Homo sapiens: one gene and its partners. The protein of the gene in region 1 interacts with the protein of each later gene in a biochemical or structural test. Each region holds a gene or a part of one and is shown on either strand. Other genes may lie near its edges.

What was found.
Region 2: the proteins of MID1 (region 1) and HMG20B form a complex in vitro, tested with the Homo sapiens proteins (one study listed by BioGRID).
Region 3: the proteins of MID1 (region 1) and RIC8A form a complex in vitro, tested with the Homo sapiens proteins (one study listed by BioGRID).

Annotation. Positions count from the first base shown.
Region 1 is NC_000023.11:10,610,435-10,614,088, reverse strand, and holds part of MID1 (E3 ubiquitin-protein ligase Midline-1), read left to right. Parts: intron 1-3,654. UniProt on the Homo sapiens protein: Has E3 ubiquitin ligase activity towards IGBP1, promoting its monoubiquitination, which results in deprotection of the catalytic subunit of protein phosphatase PP2A, and its subsequent degradation by polyubiquitination.
Region 2 is NC_000019.10:3,575,907-3,579,660, reverse strand, and holds the end of HMG20B (SWI/SNF-related matrix-associated actin-dependent regulator of chromatin subfamily E member 1-related), read right to left. Parts: intron 3,401-3,754; coding exon 3,354-3,400; intron 3,109-3,353; coding exon 3,036-3,108; intron 2,770-3,035; coding exon 2,554-2,769; intron 1,681-2,553; coding exon 1,548-1,680; intron 1,153-1,547; coding exon 1,140-1,152; 3' UTR 578-1,139; downstream 1-577. UniProt on the Homo sapiens protein: Required for correct progression through G2 phase of the cell cycle and entry into mitosis. Required for RCOR1/CoREST mediated repression of neuronal specific gene promoters.
Region 3 is NC_000011.10:213,060-215,666, reverse strand, and holds the end of RIC8A (chaperone Ric-8A), read right to left. Parts: intron 2,369-2,607; coding exon 2,249-2,368; intron 1,438-2,248; coding exon 1,317-1,437; 3' UTR 554-1,316; downstream 1-553.

The DNA of each region.
Region 1 (3,654 bases):
AGAGTCACATATTAATTACCTTTGAATCCCCAGACCCAAGCCCAGTGTCTGGCACACAATAAGAATCATTAAGTGTTCTACAGGCACATGCTGGGTGAATTTTAGTAAAAAAGAGAATGGAAAATGCTCCTTAAAATCCGAAGGGATATGAAGAAGAAAGGGCATTAGAAAGGTCCGGGAAACAGCAAGGACTAAATAGATCAGTAGTAGAGAAAATTAGCATAGGTTATGATTACTGAACTATATGTATATGGTTTTATATATATATAGTCCATTTATATACACATAGTCTCTCTCTGTCTGTCTGTCTGTCTGTCTGTCTCTCTCTCTCTCTCTCTCTCTCTCTCTCTCTCTCTATATATATATATATATATATATATATATATATATATTCCTTTCAGTTGTGTTCTGGGCAAGAACACAACCCAAAACATGGTAAGCAGCTTGGCTTATCCTCTGTTTGATTGTTCTGCAGAAATGATTACGAAATGGGTCATGCCCTCCAATAGCTCAAAGCCTAATCGCCAAGATAGAATCTGCTGCTTTCTCTCATTGAACCCAGCCTGATAGTTTAGGCCTTAGGTCCATGTGCAGTTGTTTAATTTTGCAGGTGAGTGGCATGCCCAAGGTTACTCCAGAACTGAGATAGCGTGTCTGAGAGAAGACTGAAGCCTTCTCCATGTAGATGGTGGCCACATTTTTCATAGTGAAGTTCAAGATTTGTGCCGGACAAAGCATTTTCATTGCTGGTAGGTGTAACAGACCAGAAGTTATAGTTAAAAATGACAAAATAGAAATTTCAGGGACATTTAATAGTTTATGGAAACAACAGGACTAATATATTACCAAAGGGTCTATGCGGTAGACTGTGGTATCTGTCCTATGTCAAGTTTTGGAGTGTTGCTTTGGTTGTGTGTATTTAGAAGTGGTCTTCCCCAAACAATTCGGAGGAAGGGGGATGTTACTGGGAAAATGGAATTCATTGAATGCCCTGCTGAGTTAATAATAAGTAGATGAATGGCCAAATAAAGCAATATATAGATGGACGGCACCACCAAATATTATTAATAGAGATTTATTTACTTACATAGGATCAAGTCTTCTGTACGAAATACATTAGGAATCCAGACTAAGAATACTGGTTAAAGTTTAGCATTTCTGGGTTGACGTTTTAGCACAAGAAACACTTTACCCTCCATCTGGGAGCAAGGTATGAGGGAGACTTAGGTTCTACACCTAGAAGCTAAGTCTTCTAGACTCCCCATCTCATTCTCTTTTGTGACTGTACCACATGCCTTCTACTAAGATATAATTTGGATGTTTTCAGGTCATGTGCTATAATTCAATATGCTAATAAATTCCAAGGCAATTTGAATGGAATGTTGGTTTATAATGAGGCAACTCAGGAAAGACTACATCATCTTTAGTGGAAAATACTGTCCAAAAAATCCAAATAGTTAAATGATCTTATATTTGGGTTTTGTGCTTCTTTTATGTGTATATTCTTTGCTCTGATTTTAGTTAAGTATGAAAATGTCAGACAGCAAAAACTAGGAGGATTATATTTATATAAAAGAAAGTTTAGGGAATGAGATGAGTCATTTAGCCCATGAATTAATCAGCTGTGCTTTGAGGAAATAGTGCAGGAAGGTAAAATGGAACAAATAGACGAGAGAAGAAAGCGTGACTTCTTTTAGTCAACATATGATGGGGAAAGCGGTAGAGAAAAATTGGCTATTTGGTGAGTGATTCACTTGAGTTCCTTTTCAGTGGTCAATGTTTAAAGTGAAATCCTAATGAGATTGTTGCTGCCCTTTTTGTACGGCTCTGACTAAAAGAGGGAAAACAGTCATAATAATTAATTGAGAGGGGTATGACTTTCTGAGTAGATAAAAACATGATAGACTATTAGATAATGAATATTTATTGCTTGATGCTTCTCAGTCTGGAAGAGACACTTTCTGAATATTTCTCCGCTTTCTAACATTTCAGCTGTCAGAATTGAATGGTTCACATATAAACTACATTGTTTTGGTTTAACTAACAAAGAGTGATAAGACATGAATTGTTTGTGACAGCCCCGAACATTGATAACAGAAGACATTAATGCCTGCAGACACAGCCTACATGGTAAAAATCTGGAAACAAAAATGCTTATTATGTTAGGCCATCGTGCTTTGACCTAGTTTTGCTTTTCTGCTTGGAAATTATGTCAATATTAGTTACATCATCCCTTCGGATGAGCAATTCCACATTCTTGTTTATTTCAGTGTCATATTATTAGTTTTTGTATATTTAGTTCTGACCTCTGAGGAGCCAAACTAATCCTCATTGACTTGCATTTTCCTTTTGAAATGAGACTTCTGCATGATAAAGAGAGAGGATTTTATGTATTAACAAAACAATCTAAGATGCCTCTTTAAAGGCATTCATTTCTCCTTGATCCGGAGCTACTGCCCTCTTGAAGGTTCCTAGAGGCCATCCAGTTTTCTGCTGATCAGAATTAGTCTTTTTTTCTTTGTCTTATGGGGATGGAATAGATTACTGGGCCTAGAACTGCCATAGTTGAATAACAAAAAGTAAAACTGTGAGGCTGATGGGACATTTCCCAGCCCATCATCCTTAAATTTGCCCTTTTCATGTTTCTGCTTTACTTCTTCATCCAGCAGAAACGGGCTTAGCATATTTTTCCCATTTAACATTTTTATTGAATACTTTTCAAAATGAATTATTTCCGCAGTTGATTTCGAACACATTTTTTTCTGTCATTTAATACTTTATATCACTAGAGGAAAGAACCATTTAATTCTTTCATACATTTATGAATTCTAATCTTCAAAGAGTGTGAGTTCTTCAAGTGATCAACTTACATCAAATTTACAAGTATAATTTACTACCAAAAGACCTTGAACGCTTTTTGGTGCACATGTTTTGGCATTCCTTATTAACAAATGTAATGAGGCAAAAGCCCACAAGAATATGTATTCCTGGTTCCTCTTTAAAAATGTACCATTTGCTCTTATTTTCTAATTAAGGCTTTGAAGGTTAAAAATCCCTTTGTTGTTAGCTCCTTTACAAGTCTCCTGCCTGAGTGCAGAAAACATAAGAAGGGAGTGTCCTCTTCAGAGCATAACCAAACCAACTAAATTTTAACCAGGTAAATTGTTGATTAGCATTGGATCATGTAAAGAAACAGTATGAAAGTAATTGAGATAGGCACAACTCCTAATTGTGTGATCCCAGGGGGCTTCAAACATTGTTTGAAACATTCACCTCAGAGATTATATTCCATGTCTGATCCTTATGCTAATTTGAATACTAGGATCCTGAAGAAAAACTTTATAGGATTTCTTGAGTCCCTAATTGGTATGTAAACATCGTCATTCCCAAGCTGCCCAAAGTTGTGAATTATAGTATACCATGTGTCTCCTGTTGTGATATCAATTTCTACAGCAATTTTTCTGCTTGTTGTAGGCAAATGTAAATATATTTCCCTCCTCTTACACAAATAGTGGCCTTTCACATACATTATTCTTCACCCTGGCTTTTTTCTGCTTTAGAGTATACCCTAGAGATCTTTCCATAACAGTCCACAGAGAGCTTCCTCTTTAAAAACAAAACAAAACTGCATATCATTGCACTATGACGATGTAC
Region 2 (3,754 bases), on another chromosome or scaffold:
GCTAAAATGGCCAGGCGCGGTGGCTCACGCCTGTAATCCCAGGGTTTGGGAGGCTGAAGCAGGAGGATTGCTTGAGCCCAGGAGTTCAAGGCTGCAGTGAGCTATGATCGGGCCACTGCGCTCCAGCCTGGGTGGCAGAGTGAGACCGCGTCTCCAATAAATAAACAAAATGGCTATGATGGTAAGGTTCATGTTGCGTATTTTACACAATAAACAAAACCGTGGCCCACCCAAAGTCACTGTGCTACAAAGTGGACTTGAACCCCCGTGCGGACACAAGTTGAAGGATGAACTGAGCAGCCGTGACTGTCCCCTGTGCTTCAAGTCCCCCACGTGTGCTGAGCCCACAATGCCCAACTTTAGGTAGGGGAGGGATGGAGACACCTGCCCAGCCATTGACTTGCTCTGTGAACCCCGGCAAGTTTGGGCTCCCGTCTCCCTATCTGAGAAACTCTGAGGCTCTGCTAGAGGTAAAGAGAGCAGGCCTGGCGCCCCCAGCAGGGAATGTCATGGGGGGCCCAGGCTGCACCTTCTGAACCCTCCACACCACCCCAAACAAGCTTACACACTCACAAGCTTAAAACACAAATTTTACTTGTTTTTATTTAAAAAGTCCGGATCCAGCAGTGAGAAGGAGCCACCCCCACCAGGGTCCCTCGGCTGGAGGAGAGCAGGATGGGCAAAGCCGGCCCCCACCCATCTGGGGTACAGGCATGCGGGGGACACCCCAGGTAAGTCCCCACAAGGCAGCTTCCTGTGTGGCCTATGGCACAGCCCCCCGTAGTGAGTAATTTGGGGGGTCCTGCCGTGTGCTGGGGGTGGGTTTCGTCTGCCCTGTGTCCTGGGGGTGGCCCGGAGAGCCAGTGTAGCGCGTGGCTGTCCTCCGAGGAGGGGCACCCTCGGCTGTGAGGTTCTTCTGGGTGTATCGCGCAGCGAGTGCTTTTTCCGGGTTCAGGGGGCTGGGGAGATTGAAAGCTAAAGGGATGCTGCAGAAATTTAATTTTAGGGGGGCTGGAGCCCCCAAGGTGCAGGATGGGACCAGGCCCCAAAGGGTGGACCCCCAGCCTCTCGTCCACGGGGTGGGGTGTGGCAGGGCCGCGCCCACAGCTTCTCCTCTGCATCGTGGGCCCGCCCACTCCTCACAGGTGCTCGCTGAAACGAGAGAGGAGGGCCCGGGATGAGGCCCTCATCATCTCTGGCCCCCACCCCGGCCCTGGGGAACCCCAGAGACCATGGCCCATCAGCTGCTCCAACAGATGCCAGGGTTGGGGGACAGGCGTTGAACCTATCTAACCCGGGCGCTGGGATCCACCCTGAGAAGCTTTAGGGAAGTTCTGGTGCCCCCGAGTGGGTCCCGCCGGCCCGGGGTTCTCCATGGCCATCCTAGCACTGGTGCATCAGGGGCGACCGCAGGTAGGCCCCTCCGGGAGGTGATCTCTAGTAAGCTGCGGAGTCCCACCCAGCAGCCCTCGCGGACCTGGGGAACCCCAGGGCGGGCACATCCGGGCCTTGAACCCCGGCCCCGCCCCGCCTCGCCCGGCACACACCTGGCGACCTGGGCCAGGATTTCCTTGATGCGGACGATGAGCTTCTCGTGCTGGGCGGGGTCGCGCTCGATGGCTCCGTGAAGCCGGGCCATGTAGAAGTCCAGAGTGCCCAGCGTGGGCGTTTCGCCCGTGCCTGGGGGACAGGCGGGAAGGTCAGGCGAGGGTGCCGGGGAGTCGCGGGGCGGGGGCTCCAGGGGCAGCGGTAGGGGGTGACTCAGGGCGGGTCGCGCGGGCGCTCAGAGGTCCGGACACCGCCAGCGCAGGAGCGGCGCAGGGTGGGCTAAGGTAAGCCGGGGCAGGAGGATGGCGAGGACGGGGACAGGGTGGGGACGCGGGGCTAGAGCGGCGGGCGTCCAGGGTCCGCTGAGGACAGTCACGGACGGAGGGAACGAGGTCGGGGAGGTGGGGATGACACCGGGGGGCTGGGGTCGCGTGGGACGTGACTGGGGTGGTGGAGGGGGCTCAGGCGTCAGCGGGGCGTGGGGAGGGATGGGTGACGGGGGCGTGGGGAGGTGGGGTGAATGGGAACGTGGCGTGGCGAGCGGGGAGGCTGGGTCAGTGCTCAGGCTGGTCGGGGGCTGGCGAGGGAGAGGGGCCAGCGACGGTGGGGCCGGTAGGGAGCGGTGGGGGCGCGAAGGGTGGGGGCACAAAGGGGCTGCGGGAGGAAGCGAGTAAGCGGGGACGCGTCGGGAGAGGTCGTGGCCGGGAGGCGCGGTCGGTGGGGGCGAGGTCAGGGAGCCGGCCGAGTAACGGGGCGCGGAGCGGAGCTCGGGTGTGGTCTGGGAAGAACCAGACGGAGCTATGGGGTAGGGGTGCGGGGGTCGGGGAGGAGGCGGAGCTGGGGGTGATGAGGGCGGGGCGATAGGCGGGGCCGGGTGACTGGGGAAGAGGGGACGGGGCGATGGGCGGCGCCGGGCGACAGGGGAAGGGGGGAAGGGAGGAGGGGGGGGGAGGCGGGCGGGGCCGGGTGACCGGGGCGGGACTGGGAGATGGGCGTGGCCCGCACCCGGCACCGGCAGTGAGGCGAAGCTGGCGGTGAGCGCCTGGCGCACGGCCTGGAGCTGCTGCTGCAGCGCCAGCGTCCTCCGCTCCTCCAGCGCCAGCTCCTGCTCCAGACGCTCGCGCGCGCTGCTCATGCTCTGCGTGTGCCTCTGCAGTACCGCGTTCTGCTCCTCGAAGGCCACATTCATCTTCCGCAAGCGCCGAAGCTCCGCCTCACGCGCTGCGCCGGGGGGAGCGGGGTCAAAGCCTGCGCCTCCCCTTTCCCCTACCTCCGGGCTTTTGCCCGGGACGTGCCCCTGCCCAGGTTTCCCTCACTGCGCCCTCTGCCTCCTGCTCCACATCAGCCTCTGGAGCGACAGCGTGCGCCTGGACGCTCATAGGGAACCTCCCGATCCGCCTCCTGCAGTCTTGGGGCCCTCCTGGCCCACGCCCCCCTCTACCACCCAGTTTCACGGAGTTCGCATCAGGAGCGCAGTTACCGCTCACCTTTGTTTTGGTCCAAGAACTCTTCAGTGAAGATGGGAACATCGAAGGTGGAGAAGCCATCGCAGTCCCCACCCTAAGACGAAGGGACAAGGTGGCAATTTACTGGTGGTAGGAGGCAGCCACGCTCTCTGGGTGTGCCCCAAGCCTAGGAGGGTCTCCTGGGACACCCCGGTGGGAGTACAATCAACAGCGATCCCACGGTGCAGTGGCACCGCCCCTGCTTGCACACATCTGGGCGAGCACTGGCTCTGACTCAGGGTTCTAGAAGCCTCCAGACCTTTCTCCCCCAGGTGCTTTGAGAGGAAGAAGGTCGCTTACCTTGTGTCCATTCAGGAGAGTGTTCATGAGCCCAGAGCTCGAGTCTTCTGGCGGGGGAGGGGAAGGGCAGGGTCAGCCTCCCAGGCCTCCAGGGACCACGCCCTGCACCCTAGGTCAGCGCTGCTCAGCCGGCTCCAGCTCCCCACTTGAGTGCCCCGCGTCTGGGCATCCCCCATCGCTGTACCGAGTGAGCCCCCTTCACTCCTGTCTGGCTATGTATCTTTCCCCCGCCCAACCCACGGGACTGTGCCCCACGGAGGGAGGCCCTGCCTGGGCTGAGGTCGCACCCCACAGAGCAGGACCCCAACTGCTCGCACCGGCCCCTCCCACCTTTCATTTTTCTTTTTCTTTTTTTTTTTTTTTTGAGACGGAGTCTCGCCCTGTCGCCCTGGCTAGAGTGC
Region 3 (2,607 bases), on another chromosome or scaffold:
TCACCCACCTGCACATCCTCCTTCCTAGCATCACATTACCTGCGTGTTTCCCCAGACAAAAGCACTTCCCATTCTTGAACCTTGCCTACCCTGGGCTGAGCTGACGGCAATAGATTTAATGACAGTGACTCCCAGGAAGGGGGTCCTGTGACTTTGCGCCTTAATAAGAACAAAAGGTGGAATTGGTGACCTAGGAAAACTGTTGAATTCTAAAAAGAATGAAGTTAGTTTCTAACCCTAGTTAATGTTCCTTTTTTATTTTTTGAGTCTTGCCCTGTCACTCAGGGTGGAGTGCGGTGTTATGATCTCAGCTCACTGCAACTTCCGCCTCCCGGGTTTAAGCGATTCTCCTGGGTAGCTGGGATTACAGGTGTGTCCCACCACACCTAGCACATGGGCATATTTGTAATAGAGACAAGGTTTTGCTATGTTGGCCAGGCTGGTCTCGAACTCCTGGCTTCAAGTGATCCACCCACCTCGGCCTCCCAAAGTGCTGGGATTACAGGCATGAGCCACTGTGCCTGGCCCCTTTATTTGATAATTTACACATACATTTTTGTCCAAAACTCTTCTTTATTTCAAGATGATGTTTCTGTGGCTATGTGTGGTATGTGGTATAAATCTCAATCTATGGTCACACGAGGGGCATTTTCCTTGTTGTAAGTGTAGTCTAAACCAGTAGGAAGGAGGTTTAATTGCCAAAACCAGCGAGAACTCGGGCACTGTGGATACTACAGTGGGCAGCTGAACGAGGACCAAGGAGAATGTCTAAGAGGCCTCCAGCCCTGCGCTCAGTGAAGACAGGACAGGAACAACAGAGCATACATACCTTGGAAGGGTGTGTTCTGATATACTCGTATGGAAAGTTCTGACAGGTTTTCTCCCTGGGAAGTGCAGCACATACCCCAACACACTGGCTCTGCCAGTGTGCCAATCCCAGATGGTGCTTGCTTTGTGTGCACCCACACCCAAACCCCTGCCCTCCCATATGCTCTTCTGTGTGCCCAGGTAGGCCCTGCCCTCAGGCAGCAGCTTCTGAACACATTCCTCTTGGCGCAGACAAAAGAAAGTACTTCGTCTGTGGAATTCGAGGCTGAGCCTGAGTTCTAGCACAAGAAGACCGTTGCAGTCCAGAGATGAGAAACTGGACCAGAGGCAAATCATGAACAGAACGGGAGTCAAGAGAAGGGGTTTCTAAGATGGAGAAGTGGGGGCGGGTGTGGATCCAGTGGGATGTGGCTTCCCCAGGTTGCAACCCCAAGGAAGTCTCTGGAAGCAGCACCAGTCCTGATGGGGGAGCAGAAGAGCTGCCATCCTCAGTCAGGGTCCGAGTCAGGGTCCGAGGAGAGCTGCTGCTCCATAGTCTCGCACATGGCATCCTGCAGGGACGTAAGATGACCCCGGGGACTCATCCCCATTGGCTGGATGACTCTGTTCCTGTTGGGGAAAGGTGCAGTGGGGCTGGGGAAGGGGCCCAGTTGGCCAGGCAGGGGTCCTACTCACCCGTGGCTGCTACCTTCCTCTCTACCAAGTAGGCTGCTCCCATTTACTGGGGAAGCCTGGTTGGACCTTCTGTTAACTGGGCCCAAACCCTAACTGCTGCCTCCTGGCTTTAAGCAGTTTCCTATTTTAAACATCTAAATTGGCCTTAAGCAGGCTCTTAATTTGGACACTGGGCCATCTCCAATAAATCTGGCGACATTAGTCTCTTTTTTTTTTTTGAGACGAAGTCTCACTCTGTTGCCAGGCTGGAGTGCGGTGGCACAATGTCAGCTCACTGCAAGCTCTGCCTCCTGGGTTCAAGTGATTCCCCTGCCTCAACCTCCCGAGCAGCTGGGACTACAGGCGCCCACCACCACGCCCAGCTAACTTTTTTTTTGTATTTTAGCAGAGATGGGGTTTCACCATGTTGGCCAGGATGGTCTCGATCTCCTGACCTTGTGATCTACCTGCCTCAGTCTCCCAAAGTGCTGGGATTATAGGCGTGAGCTACCACGCCCGGCCTTAGACAGTCTCTTAATTTCTCTGGGCCTCAGTTATCATCTGTAAAAGGGGCACAATACTGATCTCAATATACCCATCCCCTGGGGGATTTCCTCCAGGGCAAGTGATTTCAAACGTGAGCAATGCAACCTAATACCAGGATCCTAAGCTCTCCTCTGATCCTACCTCCTGGGGCTCACAAGACAGGATGTGGGTCAGCTCTCCCTTCTCCCAGCTGCAGGCCCCTCCTCCTCATGCCACACACCTGGAGAGCTTGTCAAACATGGTCACCAGCTTCATGGCCTCGTGCTCCTTCTGCTCCTCTGTCATGCCCTCCATAGGGTTAGGCGGCTTCTCCTCCACCCTCCCGGTCACAGGGTTTATGCTGTTTCCCAGTGGGTGGAATGTGGGGAATGCATTAGTGACTCTCCAGGACAGGAGGCAAGCCACCTATTTTCCCAGTGGGGTGAGGTGGGCAAGGCAACTGCAGGAAGAGGCCTCCCTCCAGAAGCGGCACAGGTAACCAGCTCCTGCCATCTGCCACCTTCTGGTATCCCAGATAGCACTTAGGAACAGGTGCTTGATTCTGGAAGCTCTTGCCCATTTGTCATCCTGTCCCACCCT